5 separate regions of the Homo sapiens genome follow, and regions 1, 3, 4 and 5 are each reported to be linked to region 2. Evidence: microRNA targets listed by miRTarBase, many of them from high-throughput screens and not tested one by one. Region 2 holds a microRNA gene; each other region holds the end of a gene's coding sequence.

What was found. Region 2 holds the annotated microRNA hsa-miR-507 (UUUUGCACCUUUUGGAGUGAA, at 1,840-1,860, opposite strand). A microRNA usually pairs through its seed, bases 2 to 8, with sites in the 3' UTR of a target mRNA and lowers its output. Matches are read on the target gene's strand: a 7mer-m8 pairs with bases 2 to 8, a 7mer-A1 pairs with bases 2 to 7 and ends in A, and an 8mer does both.
Region 1: the mRNA of PHIP is a reported target of hsa-miR-507. Seed matches in the 3' UTR shown: 7mer-A1 at 509-515.
Region 3: miRTarBase lists ZDHHC7 as a target of hsa-miR-507. Seed matches in the 3' UTR shown: 7mer-A1 at 1,039-1,045, 7mer-A1 at 2,028-2,034 and 7mer-m8 at 2,342-2,348.
Region 4: the mRNA of VCAN is a reported target of hsa-miR-507. Seed matches in the 3' UTR shown: 7mer-A1 at 1,315-1,321.
Region 5: the mRNA of POGK is a reported target of hsa-miR-507. The part of its 3' UTR that is shown has no 7-base or 8-base seed match.

What each region holds. Positions count from the first base shown.
Region 1 is chr6:78,937,910-78,941,082 of GRCh38, reverse strand. It overlaps PHIP (PHIP subunit of CUL4-Ring ligase complex), which reads left to right. Exons shown (of 40, transcript NM_017934.7): 40 at 1-3,173. The coding sequence ends at 390. It also overlaps a transcript of IRAK1BP1 not described here. Among named protein-coding and RNA genes, the nearest start is that of IRAK1BP1, 72 kb to the right of the region's middle.
Region 2 is chrX:147,229,163-147,232,335 of GRCh38, forward strand. It overlaps MIR507 (microRNA 507), which reads right to left and starts at 1,915; the gene lies at 1,822-1,915. It overlaps MIR506 (microRNA 506), which reads right to left and starts at 1,681; the gene lies at 1,558-1,681. All of the region lies in intron 2 of LOC105373347 (periphilin-1), which reads left to right.
Region 3 is chr16:84,973,888-84,976,887 of GRCh38, reverse strand. It overlaps ZDHHC7 (zDHHC palmitoyltransferase 7), which reads left to right. Exons shown (of 8, transcript NM_017740.3): 8 at 369-2,713. The coding sequence ends at 545. Among named protein-coding and RNA genes, the nearest start is that of ZDHHC7, 36 kb to the left of the region's middle. RefSeq lists an enhancer at 1-557.
Region 4 is chr5:83,580,001-83,583,173 of GRCh38, forward strand. It overlaps VCAN (versican), which reads left to right. Exons shown (of 15, transcript NM_004385.5): 14 at 1-162; 15 at 307-2,302. The coding sequence ends at 434. Among named protein-coding and RNA genes, the nearest start is that of VCAN-AS1, 19 kb to the left of the region's middle.
Region 5 is chr1:166,849,792-166,852,964 of GRCh38, reverse strand. POGK (pogo transposable element derived with KRAB domain) reads right to left here. Exons shown (of 6, transcript NM_017542.5): 5 at 2,542-3,173; 6 at 1-380. The coding sequence ends at 2,556. Among named protein-coding and RNA genes, the nearest start is that of POGK, 12 kb to the right of the region's middle.

The DNA.
Region 1 (3,173 bases), not on the chromosome of region 2:
AATTTTCTTTCTGAAACTAATAATGTAAAGGAAGATTTGTTACAGAAAAAGAATCGTGGAGGTAGGAAGCCCAAAAGGAAGATGAAGACACAAAAATTAGATGCAGATCTCCTAGTCCCTGCAAGTGTCAAAGTGTTAAGGAGAAGTAACCGAAAAAAGATAGATGATCCTATAGATGAGGAAGAAGAGTTTGAAGAACTCAAAGGCTCTGAACCCCACATGAGAACTAGAAATCAAGGTCGAAGGACAGCTTTCTATAATGAGGATGACTCTGAAGAGGAGCAAAGGCAGCTGTTGTTCGAAGACACCTCTTTAACTTTTGGAACTTCTAGTAGAGGACGAGTCCGAAAGTTGACTGAAAAAGCAAAAGCTAATTTAATTGGTTGGTAACTTGTACCAAAATATTTTACTTCAAAATCTATAAAGCAGGTACAGTTAAGGAATAAGTAGAACTAAGGCTTCTGCTTCCTTGCTGCTGTGGTGGAGTAGGGAATGTTATGATTTGATTTGCAAAAAAAAAAAAAAAAAAAAAAACAAACTTACGAGACACTTCACTTCTTTAAATGAATATATATATATATATATAAATATATACATATATATTTTAAATGTTTGCTATTTATTGCCCTTAGATAGGTTATGCATTTTCACATTCATTTCATTCACTGTTTGAAACGAAAGAAATTGATCTATAATGAATTCCTGATTTATTTATAGAAAAGACAATTCTGCTACACTCTTTAGGAGCATAATATTCCTAGTGATAGAGCATTTCATGTTAAAATGAATTATTTTTGACCAAGTGAGGTACATTTCTATTGATACAAGTCATGCCCCTAAAAGATAGATGTTATACAGAGTAGCAGTGAATTAAGAAATGTTTCCTCTAAAAGATAAATATAAAATTTCCACCATTTGATACCCTAAACAGTTTAATTTTAATTATAGAATGTTCATCTACAAAGTATCTAGAGGAGGCTTTTGCTTTATTCCATTTCTGCCAAACAAGAGAAAATGTACTGATGAAGGGAAACATATCCACATTGGAAAACATTTGACTGTCTAATTTTTCAGACCTTGATTCTTATATCACTCAATCTCTGTTTATTGTGCCAAAGACTGAGAATCAGTGCAGTGGAAAGCCTGTTTTTGACGTCAGGACAGCATACACTTTTCAATATTGGAAAGGCTATATATTCTAAAGAGCAAGTTATTAAAGAGTTATGCTGAGATATATCTTTTTTTGGTACTAATAGAAAATAATGCACTGGTGGGTCCTTTGACAGAGATGTTCTAGAGGAAATGTTTAAGTGGTTAAAGGATTCAAGGAAAATACAGGAAAAAAGGTATGGGATTTGATGTTTACTTGTTGATCTGGATTAATGTCATTTCTAAACTTTAGACATATCTAATAGCCTAAAATGACTTACAAAGAAACGTGTCTGTGTGTGTATGTGTATATATTGATAAATGGGTATAATTAAATATATATACAAACACATACTTATATACTATTACCCAGGTATAAATTCTTTTTTCAGGATTTTTTAGATAGCAGTAGAATAAAAATAATTTTAAAATGTCATACTTTATAGTTTAATTTTAAGGGGGAAATTGGTTATTTTCAATTATTAAAGGTTAAAATAGGCCAAATCACTTTTTATGCAATCATGTTTTATACAGTGGTCTCATTGCACATTGTGTTTTTTCTGCACTTTTTACGGTATCCTTATCATGCTGGTATGTCAATATACACCCTAAAGAAAAACTCCATTTAATGATTGTGCCTTGTATTCTATTATTTTTTGCATCATTAGTAAAATTAAGTTGTCTATTGTAAATGATAACTATATGACTTAGGAGAATGTATTGCTATATGTACTGCTATGGAAAAGGAAAGCAGTTATTTATTTGTTTATGGTACAGTTAGTTATTTTATACCTTAAAAACCAACATACTTACCATTTCTATTGTTTAAAAATTACTGTCCATTTTTTTAAAAATTTAAAGAATGTAGTATTTTCTGAGGACTGGTATGGTACAAAAATGTAATCAAAATTTTCAGATACTACATTTTTAAAAAGTGAGGATGGGGAAAATATGTATCAGCATGACCCTGATGTAGAAAAATAAAGTCTGCAATTGAACCTTGGCAAAATACATTACATAATTATTTCTGATAAGGATAAATATTAGCTGTCATTTAACTGTCGTGAAGAATGAAAAAGTGATACATTTGGGCTTTTTAGATCATTTGTAACTAAATTTGTACAGAAATTCTCCTGTGAAATTAAGTAAACCATTTTCCAGATCTTGACTGCATTGCTGAGATTTTGCAGTTGAAAAATAATTTCAAATTTTTCAGGTTTTTTGTATATTTATTTTTTTCTAACAAATATATTTAACTATAAAATTAAAATTCAGTAGTTAAACTCTTCATAATGCAGAAATGGATGGCTTGATTGTATAGAAAAATGAGTCTTTCAGTTACACCATTCTTGAAAATAATAGTGTATGTTTGAAATTTGTCATTAATTAGTTGCTTTTGAAGGCAATCTATTTGAAATATGTAATTTCCTGATGTTATCTGCATTGTGTTAAGAAAAAAATAATAGGCTATAAAATCAATTTTTGTAAAAAAAATGTACAGTTTTAAGTTGTGTACAGAAAAAGGAAGAGCGTACACAGTCTTAGAGTGGAATATACCTCTAGTACAGTGTATGTGTTAATTCCAACTCAAGCAAAGAAATGAGTATTTACCATCTTTCCTATAACATGTAAATGTATTATTCCTGTTCTACAGACACTGTATATTTATGACCTTATTTGGACATTATTAGACACTGGTTTCTTAGTAAAGCACAGTAACTTGGATCAGATTCTTTGTAACCGAAACACTTAAACATGTATTAGTAATACCAATATATTTAGATTTTATATTTTTATAATTTAGCTTCTATGCATTACAGAAGTTGAATTAAGAAATTTAAGTCATCACCATATTTTTGTTTTCTTTACCACTTGGGAAAATAATCCTCTTTGAGGCAGTAACACTATGTATGTACTGTTAATAGGCCAGAAAGAAATATTGGCAGTTGTCTTAGGTAAGCAATAAAAACATCTCCAATTTACTGAAAGTTCAGAAATATAACTCTTACATGCATGGAAAGTGT
Region 2 (3,173 bases):
ACAACATGACAAGGAGTGAACTTGTGATGATTAATTCTATATTTCAACCTGACTGGGTCATGGAGTGCCCAGACATTTGGTCAGTCATTATTCTGGGTGTTTCTGTGAAGGTCTTTTTGGATGACATTAGCATTTAAATCAGTAGAATGAGTAAAGCAGACCACCCTCCCTAATGTGGATGGATGGGCCTGCACCAATCAGATGAAGGTTTAAATGGAACAAAAAGGCTGACTCTCCCCTAAGTTAGAGAGAATTCCTCCTGCCTGACTGCCTCCAAACTGGGGCATCTCATTTTTTTCTGGCATTGTACTCAAATTAAAACATTAGCTCTTCCTGGGTCTCAAACCTGCTGGCCTTTGGACTGGAACTACAAAATGGTTTGTTCTACTGCTTCTTTGGCCTCTGGACTTGGACTGCAACTATACCATCAGTTCTCCTGGGTCCCCAGCTTGCTGACCCATCCCCCTGCAGATCTAGGAACTCACCAGCCTCCATAGTTGCCTGAGGTTATTCCTTGCAGTATCCTTATAATAAATATCTTAAGGGATTTATTTTAAAAATAGACTTCTATAATAATTATATACATATATATTTGCTCAATCATTGTCCTGGGTGTTTCTTTGAAGGTCTTATAAGACCTGATCCAGAATCTGAGGGTGCCTGGGGTACCTGTGAAAAGTATGTCCTGTAGGTTTTTTAAGCATTTATTCCTTTTTCTCCACAAAAGGACTACAAAACACTGGGAACAAGATTTGAGGTAGGAACATGATCCTTTTTCTGCATCCTTTTCCTTTTTCTGTGAATGTCATATGTATGTGTGTGTGTGTGTGTGTGTGTGTGTATATATATATATATATATATATATATATATATATATAAAGGGATATATAAACCCCTTTGTATATGTAAAGTTTCCAGAAGTATATGTACACACATGTTCATACATATATGTTCTCATCACTTCATCCGTTCCCATAATAGTTAAGACCAGCTAAAAACATATAAATAGTTCAAATGAAAGCAAATTTGGGGTATCATATCAAACTCCACTGATATGAGATTATCATCACGGATACACAGGAATATTAAAGGGAATTTGAGTGTATCTAAGCCTTGAGGAGATCACTTCATAAGAAAGATGGTTCATGGAGTTTGGAGTTCAGCAGGGAAGGGCAGGAGGATATTTGTGCTCCCTAAAAAGAAGGCTTAAATATTGTGAGGAAAGAAGATCAGTGTAAACTTCTCAGGGGTTTATAAGGCAAGAAGTGTATTTGGGTTGTTATAGAGAGAAAAGACTAAGAGGTACAAGAGAAAAAGAAGTATCATGTTCCTACCTCAAATCTTGTTTCCAGTGTAGTCAGTCATTTTGTGGAGAAAAAGCAATAAATAATTGAAAAACCTACATGAGAGACTTTTCCCAGGCACCCTCAGATTCTGGAGCAGATCTCTCAAGAGGTACTTCAGAGAGTACCTGGAAATGGCTCATCACTAAAGGTTGGGTACCAAGGCTCAAGGGAGGGCAGTATTGTCACTGAAATTCCACTCGTCATTACCAATGCCACCACAAATGTTGTCCATGTTGCACATTACTCTACTCAGAAGGGTGCCTTACAAATATTAATCTATTAAGTAACACCTTCCTGAATAAGGCACTACACATAGTATGGCTGATGGTGGTGGCACTGACCATCTTAATAGTAACACGGGGAAACTACAGATGAGGCTATTCCCAGAGAACCTCATCCTCTAGGTTTTACCCCACAGAATTCTCTTTAAAGGGTTGTATGAGTTGACCCATCACTGAGTGGGTAGTTCTGACTTGTATCTGTTGTGCATTATTTCACTCCAAAAGGTGCAAAACATATTTCTAGACACATGCATGGCACTTCTTGAAGTGAAGCACTACACACAGCACAGCGGAAAATGTCCCTCACTCCGCCATTTCAGTCAGAATCCCAACACTCTCAGTCCACTAGGAATAAGCAGAATATAGTCAATAGATTAAAAAAAAAACAAACCCTTTTTCCTCTCCCTTTTGTCTCCTATGTCTTTCACTGAATGCTTATTAATTACTTCACCTGCTGCACATTTAATGAGACAGATTTTAGGAGAGAGAAAATTTTCCCTCTTCCTCCCAGACTTAGCATACTTCACTAAATTGTTCTGCTAATTTTCAATTTAATATAGTTGGCACATGAACAACTACTTCATATGCCTCAAAAGCCAGTCATTACATAGAAAGGACCACTCAAGTGACTCATCATATCTAGCGATTGCAGGCCAGATAGAGCTCAGTTGAAGCAGTGCTGGAGAGTTCTCTTCTTTCCAATTTGAATCTTCTTTATATCATTGGGGCCTTGGTTTGGCATCCTCTGTTCAGAGATGAAGGCCTACAGCAGCAGAAGCAGTAGTCACCACAGTCATGCACTTGCAAACCAGTGTTTAGACCAAGAAATATCTGCAACACATGTGAACACATGCATGCCACACATGCAAATAAACATGTGAACAATGAAACAAACAACCCCAAAACGAATGCTCACAAAATAGGGCAATGCAAACACAAAGACAAACACTGCATGATCTGACTCATACGCAGAGTCTAAGAAAGTTGATCTCATAGGAGTAGAGAGTAGAATGATGGTTACCAGAGTCTGGGGAAGGGAAGGGAAAGGGGGGTTGGGGAAAAATTGGTTTATGGGTACAGAGTCACAGTTAGGAGGGCTAAAAGTTCTGATGTGTTATTGTGCAGAAGAGTGATTGATTATAGTTAGTTAACAATATTTTATGGTATATTCCAAAATCACTAGAAGAGAGGGTTTTGAATGTTCTTCCCACAAAGAAGTGATGGACGTTTGAGGTAATGAAAATACTAAATCCCTGATTTGATTATTACACAATGCATGTATGTATCAAAACATCTCACTATATCTCATCAATATTTACAAATTATTATGTGTCAACTAAAAAAACAATAAAGGAGTAACAATTTTTTTTTTGAGACAGAGTTTTGCTTTTGTTGCCCAGGCTGGAGGGCAATGGCACAATCTCAGCTCACTGCAACCTCCGCCTCCTGGGTTCAAGCGATTCTCCTGCCTCAGCCTCCCACGTAGCTGGGATTACAGGCATGTGCCACCAGACCCAGCTAATTTTCTGTATTTTCTGTAGAAGCA
Region 3 (3,000 bases), not on the chromosome of region 2:
AGAGCCAGGCAGATTCCCAGCTCCCAGTGCAGTCAGTAAATTTCAGGGAACTGACTGCCTTTAGGGCCTGGCTCTGCAGGCCTGGAGTGGCGCTCAGTAAATGTCTGTACACAGTAACTAACGAGCGACAAATGTTGGTGCCTGGCTGGGAGGGCCATTGTGGTAGTCTGGGCTGGCCACGTGGCTGCAGCCGGGCTGGGCTCACAGAGGCCACGGGGTCTGGATCGGGGCAGAGCTGGGAAGGAGAGTTCACTCACCTACCCTCCATCGAGCCCACACTGTGCTTGAGCACGGTGTGATTCTGAGGCTTGGTGGGGTCTGCCGAGCTTCCTGGAGCCGCTGCCACTTGCTTTTCTTTCTGCTTCCAGGAGATCGAGCGATTGAAAAGTGAGAAGCCCACATGGGAGCGGAGGCTGCGATGGGAAGGGATGAAGTCCGTCTTTGGGGGGCCCCCCTCACTCCTCTGGATGAATCCCTTTGTGGGCTTCCGATTTAGGCGACTGCCCACGAGACCCAGAAAAGGTGGCCCGGAGTTCTCAGTGTGAGGCGTGGCTCATCAGACTGAAACTTGCTCACAGACTTCCAGTTATTTATTTGGGGTCTGAAGGATATCAACAGCTCATCTGTGACCAACAGGGCAACTGGAACCTACACAAACCAATTGCTTGCAGCAAGCAGAGTTTTATATATTTATAGTCACAGATGGCAGAGGAAGAGGCTCTCAGTCCCCACCTGTACAACAACGGAAAGGTGTGTGGCCACACGAAGAAGCCAAACGCCGTGGCCTCCTGCAGAGCTGGGGCTTCTGTGGAGAATACTTCGGGTTATTACATGGGTTATTCAAATCCTGGGTCCTGAGCTGCTGTTTCCAATCATGAAGAAAAACAGTGAATCCAGTGAACAGGGATTCTCCAAGCAGTCATTTCAGGGGGCTCCTGCTGACCCCGCCACTCAGCAGTGCACTCCCCGGATCACAGCAGGGCGTTTACATAGAAAGACGTTTTGGTCTCGATTAGCTCCGATGCTTTGCACTGAAGTTGCAAAAGATCTGTGCACTGAACAGTGAAGGTGGCTTCCGGCACACTCCCCGCTGCCCCGGAAGAGACATCCTTTGACCCTCTCAGCAAGTCTGTGTGTGTGCGTGTCTGTGCGTGTGCGCGCGTGTGTGCATGTGTGTCAAAATTGCCAGTGTTGTTTAGGCAATGTAACATTTACCGGCTGTGTACAGCAAACAAGCTATTTTTTAGAAACCGACGTTTCAGGGAAGAGGGGAGAGAGCCGCGGGGTCCTGCCCGTGGTTACTATGAATGTATTGCTGTTGGAGGACATCTCGATCCAAAGAACAGCCGTTCCTGTGCGGCCCTTCGTTGCCCTCCTGCTTTCATTTTTTAAAGAAATCTTGAGTGCTTGAGGGCCTTGGAACTGATTTTTTTTTTTTGTTCCAGCCAAATTAGCAGTGTATAAATGGCACCTAGGTAAGAGCAGAGCTGCGGCTCGGTGACTTGATACTTGGGGCAGCCCGATGCTGTGTGTGGGGCAGGGGAGGCATCCTTACTGGAGAGGCAGGGCCCAGCCATTGGGCACCTCTGGGAAGGGGAGGGGACCATGAGGCAGCCAGCCCCTGGCAGGGGCGACTGTGCCACCGCAGGCAGCGCTCCAGTCGGGAATGGCCAGGATGGCGCCCTCTTGTTGGAGTTTTTGGTTAGCTTTTACGTTTTCTTCTCCACCCACGGCACAGGTGATAAAATAGGATCCTTGGTGCGGAGCTTAAAATTATGCCAGAAAGCCAACAGCTCCCCTCGTGGGGCCTTGCCTTAAACTTGCCTGGTTTGTACATTTTTTGCCGGACGCATCAAGAAGCAATCTGTGACAAAGTCTGAGGGTCTTCCTTTATGCTTGCCCTCCACACTAAGAGAAGTTGGCGTCTCCCTCCTGGGAATTGTTTTGCCTTTCTGTTCATCTGTGAACTGTTTTTTGTTTTTAATTACTCTGTACCCCATCCGAATCAGGGCTTCTACCACTGCTGATGCAAAACCACAAAGGGACCTACCTGAGCCACCGTCCTAGCCAAGCGAGCAAACCTGCAGGGGGTTTGGAAGTGGACTTGGTCACCGCAGAAGCGTGTGCGCCGTTGGGGGAAGAGCTGCGTCACAGCCAGAGGGACAAAGTGTGGGTGATCCTGGAGACGCCAGTTTCCGAGATTGTTCTGCATATTCATTTGCACATTGTTGTCTGGGTTGGACATGCGTGTGGGCTTCAGTGTGAGGCTTTTAATATGTATATCCTGTTATCAATAAAACAATTATCCAAGTGGTTGAATCCTGTGAGACTTGGCAAGTGTGTGCAAATCAAGTATACTTGACTTTTCAACCTCTTCTTTCAATGTAACTTTTATATGAAATAAAGTAATCAATTAACAGTTCTCAAATGGCTTCCAAAGCGCCCGTTCTTCCTGGATGGTGGTGTTTTCAGGGGGTGCCTTTCCGTGCTTCGTGGGCCCAGCCCCAGGCTGTTAAGGTCACTCCCAAACAGTTTCCAGAAACTCTAAATGCTTTTGTGCCCATGACAAGTGACCTGGGCACTCAAGCGCGACTCACAAATGTTGCCCAGTGAGTACTGTTGCTTGTTGAATGTTTAATTCGACTCCCATCGTTTTACTTAGTCCTTTTTTTAGTGCACGTTGAAATAAAAACAATGTTTCAAAATCTCCACAGTTCAGAATCTCAAGTACCTACAATTTGATTTTAATTCATTCAACAAATTTGTCTAACATTTGCACTGAGGGAACCAAAATGCCCACTTACCTTCCAGAGGCCAGATGGTCAGTGTGTGCCGCAGCCCTGCCTCGCTTACCTTTCAGAGGCCAGATGGTCAGTGTGTGCCGCAGCCCTGCCTCGCACGTGCTGTGCCTTGGGGCTCCTGGTGGCATTCCAGACACGCGGAAATGAGAAGGAGACTCGAACACGGAGGCGCACACCTGAGCCGGGCGGCTGCATGGGC
Region 4 (3,173 bases), not on the chromosome of region 2:
TTGTAGAAAATGCCAAGACCTTTGGAAAGATGAAACCTCGTTATGAAATCAACTCCCTGATTAGATACCACTGCAAAGATGGTTTCATTCAACGTCACCTTCCAACTATCCGGTGCTTAGGAAATGGAAGATGGGCTATACCTAAAATTACCTGCATGAACCGTAAGTGGTCCTTTAGAAAGAATGGACTACCGTGCTATAACAACTACTAGACACCTTCATTTTACGGCTGTGGTATCGGCAGTTTAGGGTATGGAGCAAGTAATATTGTGTGTTTTCTTTTTTTCTTTCTTTCCTTCCATGTAGCATCTGCATACCAAAGGACTTATTCTATGAAATACTTTAAAAATTCCTCATCAGCAAAGGACAATTCAATAAATACATCCAAACATGATCATCGTTGGAGCCGGAGGTGGCAGGAGTCGAGGCGCTGATCCCTAAAATGGCGAACATGTGTTTTCATCATTTCAGCCAAAGTCCTAACTTCCTGTGCCTTTCCTATCACCTCGAGAAGTAATTATCAGTTGGTTTGGATTTTTGGACCACCGTTCAGTCATTTTGGGTTGCCGTGCTCCCAAAACATTTTAAATGAAAGTATTGGCATTCAAAAAGACAGCAGACAAAATGAAAGAAAATGAGAGCAGAAAGTAAGCATTTCCAGCCTATCTAATTTCTTTAGTTTTCTATTTGCCTCCAGTGCAGTCCATTTCCTAATGTATACCAGCCTACTGTACTATTTAAAATGCTCAATTTCAGCACCGATGGCCATGTAAATAAGATGATTTAATGTTGATTTTAATCCTGTATATAAAATAAAAAGTCACAATGAGTTTGGGCATATTTAATGATGATTATGGAGCCTTAGAGGTCTTTAATCATTGGTTCGGCTGCTTTTATGTAGTTTAGGCTGGAAATGGTTTCACTTGCTCTTTGACTGTCAGCAAGACTGAAGATGGCTTTTCCTGGACAGCTAGAAAACACAAAATCTTGTAGGTCATTGCACCTATCTCAGCCATAGGTGCAGTTTGCTTCTACATGATGCTAAAGGCTGCGAATGGGATCCTGATGGAACTAAGGACTCCAATGTCGAACTCTTCTTTGCTGCATTCCTTTTTCTTCACTTACAAGAAAGGCCTGAATGGAGGACTTTTCTGTAACCAGGAACATTTTTTAGGGGTCAAAGTGCTAATAATTAACTCAACCAGGTCTACTTTTTAATGGCTTTCATAACACTAACTCATAAGGTTACCGATCAATGCATTTCATACGGATATAGACCTAGGGCTCTGGAGGGTGGGGGATTGTTAAAACACATGCAAAAAAAAAAAAAAAAAAAAAAAAAGAAATTTTGTATATATAACCATTTTAATCTTTTATAAAGTTTTGAATGTTCATGTATGAATGCTGCAGCTGTGAAGCATACATAAATAAATGAAGTAAGCCATACTGATTTAATTTATTGGATGTTATTTTCCCTAAGACCTGAAAATGAACATAGTATGCTAGTTATTTTTCAGTGTTAGCCTTTTACTTTCCTCACACAATTTGGAATCATATAATATAGGTACTTTGTCCCTGATTAAATAATGTGACGGATAGAATGCATCAAGTGTTTATTATGAAAAGAGTGGAAAAGTATATAGCTTTTAGCAAAAGGTGTTTGCCCATTCTAAGAAATGAGCGAATATATAGAAATAGTGTGGGCATTTCTTCCTGTTAGGTGGAGTGTATGTGTTGACATTTCTCCCCATCTCTTCCCACTCTGTTTTCTCCCCATTATTTGAATAAAGTGACTGCTGAAGATGACTTTGAATCCTTATCCACTTAATTTAATGTTTAAAGAAAAACCTGTAATGGAAAGTAAGACTCCTTCCCTAATTTCAGTTTAGAGCAACTTGAAGAAGAGTAGACAAAAAATAAAATGCACATAGAAAAAGAGAAAAAGGGCACAAAGGGATTGGCCCAATATTGATTCTTTTTTTATAAAACCTCCTTTGGCTTAGAAGGAATGACTCTAGCTACAATAATACACAGTATGTTTAAGCAGGTTCCCTTGGTTGTTGCATTAAATGTAATCCACCTTTAGGTATTTTAGAGCACAGAACAACACTGTGTTGATCTAGTAGGTTTCTATTTTTCCTTTCTCTTTACAATGCACATAATACTTTCCTGTATTTATATCATAACGTGTATAGTGTAAAATGTGAATGACTTTTTTTGTGAATGAAAATCTAAAATCTTTGTAACTTTTTATATCTGCTTTTGTTTCACCAAAGAAACCTAAAATCCTTCTTTTACTACACTGTGACTGGTCTGGTTATTTACAACTTTAAATCCTTATGTGCACCAACATTTTTACATTCTGGTTCCATCATGGAGAGCAAGCTTCTAACCTGGATGAAATGATTTTGTGGCAAGCAAAGAAATGATTATATATTTACCCGTAAAAGTTGCGATAATAATTCTGATAATGTTTTCATCTGAATACTATGTATTAATTTCAAATATGGAAACTATGCAATGGGAAAAGTGATAGCTCACATCACAGAAATCTTCCTATGAACCAAGGCAAGTATTTTACATGTAATATATCATAACAAGCTTATGAAACAGGGGTCATCATTACTGACTGATAAGGGATCGGGCATAGAGGGCTCGTTATTTGTCCAAAATCATGCAGTTAGTGTGTAGCAGAAGCAGGTAATCCCTACAGCCCACACAGAATTTCCAAGAAAAATGTAAAATATTATATCCCTGATTGTTATGCATTTAAGAGGTTATCACCCATTCAGATATCCATCCGTTCCTTCAGTTTTCATTCATTCATTATTTAAGGATTTAATGTGTGCCAGGCACCGTAATAGGCTCTGAAGATTCACCAGTGGATGCGGTAGACAGGTTTCTGCCCACATAAAGTTTTTATACTGGCTGCATCCCATGGAAATTATCATAGAACCCATTCTATTCAGTATCTTTATTGATAATCTGGAAGAACCAATACATTTTATGCTCCAAAGTTATATCAAAGATATAAAGGTCAAAGGTGAGCTGAAAATTATTTTAAGGTTCTTTCTAGAAATGTCAAAAATATACAGGGAGTTTGGCATGAATAAGTGTGGAAGAGAAGAGATTATTTTCCTTTCTGAGCTTGTCCTTTTAGTGTGCACTCTGTC
Region 5 (3,173 bases), not on the chromosome of region 2:
CCCATATGATGAGTCCCTCGTTGGTGTTGAATAAATTGTCTTTTCTCCAGGAAATAACCTTTGTTCTTTCATATTTACAGGTTTCTTTTGATGGACAGATGGAGTAATCTCCAAAACAAGAAATGGGGCAGAAGCAGTTTCTTTTCTGATCATGTCTCTGATGAAATGATAGGTCCTAGACTTTTCTGATACCTTGTATGGTGTGGGGAGGGGCTGGGCTGTGTCCTGGGATGGATGTACAGGCTGCTGTCTGGACCGGGGCTGTTCAGAGCCCCGTGGCCTTTTCCTGATGTTCCCTGCGCATCCAGCGCATCCACACTTTCAGGAATAATCATCTTGAGGAATTTCATCCCCAGCTGTTTAAATCAGAGTTCCATTTGCTGGAAAACAGAGAGAACCTAAATGAATTAACCCTTGGCTTTTTGGTATAACTTTTAACAAACATAATAATTCCATCATTCAGATTTCCAAATAGAGGCCAAGACGTAGTTTTATGCCCACTTGGTCTCCCAAATCTCTTGTTCACTGTGAATCTGTCTACTCCCATCACTTCCTCAGGAGCTGCAGAGAGAATTGTGGCAGACTAGAAGAGCAAAAGCTCATGACCAATATTACAGGCCAACATTCATAAATGCAACTTAGCATAGCTTTTTCTCCTTTCCTCTTCTGGAAGTTTTTAATCATGTCCCTGAGGTGGTAAGGAGCTTAGGAAATTAAAAGTGCACAAAAATGTTATCTAACAAGGAGAGGGAAAAGCAAAAGGTAAATGAAGAAAAGATGGAAACTCAATGTAATTCAGTTTGATATCCAATGCAGGCAATATAAGGGTCAGCAGAAAAGGGAGGCTGGATTCATGGGGTTTCTCAAAGCAAGGAGGACCCAAGGGGGAAAAAAAAGCAATTTTGGTGATTTTGAATGTAATAGTAAGAACTTCTTGCTCCATTGTAATTCCAGGGATCCCAGAATTACAATGGGATTCAGCAATATGAGTACAATTTAATTTGGAAGCAAGGCAGGAGACATAAGTCACTCTTTGAAACACAGATGGACTTATATAGCTGAAGTGGGTAAAATAAGGCTCCCATTAGCATTTCATTTGGAGAAAAAAGCAAGGAAGATGGAAATACCTAATTATACTTTAAAAGAAAGAAAAAGAATGTGTGAAGATGGTTGACGGTTTCAGGTCCTCTGTAAAAAAGGTGGCTTCTTCCTTCATATAAAACACTGTCTGGAGGATCAATTTAATTTATAATTAGGGAGATGAGAACGAACAGGTAAATGAATTGTTTGTTCTTTGTGGGTGTCCCCCCTGCTGTACATGCTCATCCTCCTCCTCTCTGGAGGTGTAGGTGGGTGGGGTCATTTCACTAGTGTTGTCTCAGTTAGGCCTCCATTCCTACTTTCCTTTGAAAGCTGTTCTTCTTGTGTACTCAACCCAGAAAATTCCAGGCCTATTGTCCTCAGCCCTCACTAGAGTCCTAGATACGCACCGTTTTATTTTCTTTTTTTGGTGTAAAGATTCAGTTAAAAAATATCTTCCTTCAGACATCTGCTGACTACAGGAAATTATTGTCATAGCCCATGTGAAGGTCATAATGAGACTAAGATGACGTTTTAAAACTCCTGAACTCTGTAGGGAAAAGCAAGTAGAAGCTATTATTCTTACTCGCTGGTAACATACTGTAGATAGCTCCAGGACTGAGACCCGAGGCCCGGAGGACACACTTAGTGTTCTCCCTATGTCACAGTCCTACAGGCCAGCAAAAGTGAGTACAACTGTCCCAGCATGTCAGTTACACATACTGGCCCTAAATGTTCAGCATAATTTAAAAGGGAAAGAAAAAAGTTGGCTTTTCAGACAAAATTTTGTGTGAACTGAACAACGTCAGACTATGCTTCTTTGGGTCCAAATAATTTTAACTTTACAGCTCTCAGATGTTCTGGCAGCTCATTCTTTGTTCATTTCACCTATTATACAAGTGTTTCTGGGTCCAAGCCACAGAGCAAAATAGACACAAATAAATCAAATAATAAATGTTTCATATAAAGGAGAAAATGCTAATGGTCTGTTATCTATACCAGCAGTCCCCAACTTTTCTGGCACCAGGGACTGGTTTCATGGAAGACAATTTTTGCAGGGACCCAGGAAGTGCGGGGTAGTGGGTGGTAGGATGGCTTTGGGATGAAACTGTTCCGCCTCAGATCCTCAGGCATTGAGGAGCCTGCAACCTAGATCCCTCACATGTGCAGTTCACAACAGGGTTTGTGCTCCTATGAGAATCTAATGCCGCTGCTGTGACAGCGGGCGGAGCTCAGGTGGTAATGCTTGCTCACCTGCCGCTCACCTCCTGCTGTGCAGCCCAGTTCCTGACAGGCCATGGACCAGTATGGTCCGTGACCTGGGGGTTGGGGACCCCTGATCTACACTACTGCACTGTAGGCTCTAAGGGAACTTAAAAACAGAAAAATAATGGAGAGAAGGTGTTTGTAGAACACAGACATGTCAGCAAAGGCACTGAGTATCTACTCCTGAGTGGTTACCTTTCCCTTTCCCTTCAGTTGCTCTCAGCCATGCTTTCGGTGTCACAATCTTTTGGTGGTTCTCCTCCTCCTGGCAACTCACTCTCGATTTCCCACAGGACATCGTCTTCCTCCTCCAAGTTGCTGGAGATATGGCACTTCTTGAACCCTTGGACGATGGACTCACTTGAGATGCTATTCCACGCGACCATGACCCACTCCAGAAAGAGGCCCAGGGGTGGCTTCTTAGCATTCCCGGTTGGGCTCAGCGCCAGGTTCCCAGCCAGAAGCCAGTTGGAGTACTGGGCCCGCACACTGTCATTCAGTGGCTTGTAGACCACGACATCCAGCACCTGAAGCTGTGAGGTCAGACCCCCTGGGATGATCACCATGTCAGTGTTCATGCTTTCCATGGAGTTCTTCACGGAATCTGTGGCATGGCCCCGGAAGCCATTCAAGATCAGCATCCCTCGCTGCTTGGGCACTGCTCCTGTCCTCCGTCTCCACACCACTTCCAACCAGTCCTGCATCAAGTCTTCAGTCATCCACCCATACCGGTGGCAGCGAATTTCCATCCCACTGGGAAACTTCCCCGGGGGGATATATGTTCCCCTCAAAATGATGTACGGTGGTAACTTCCTCCCATCAGCCAA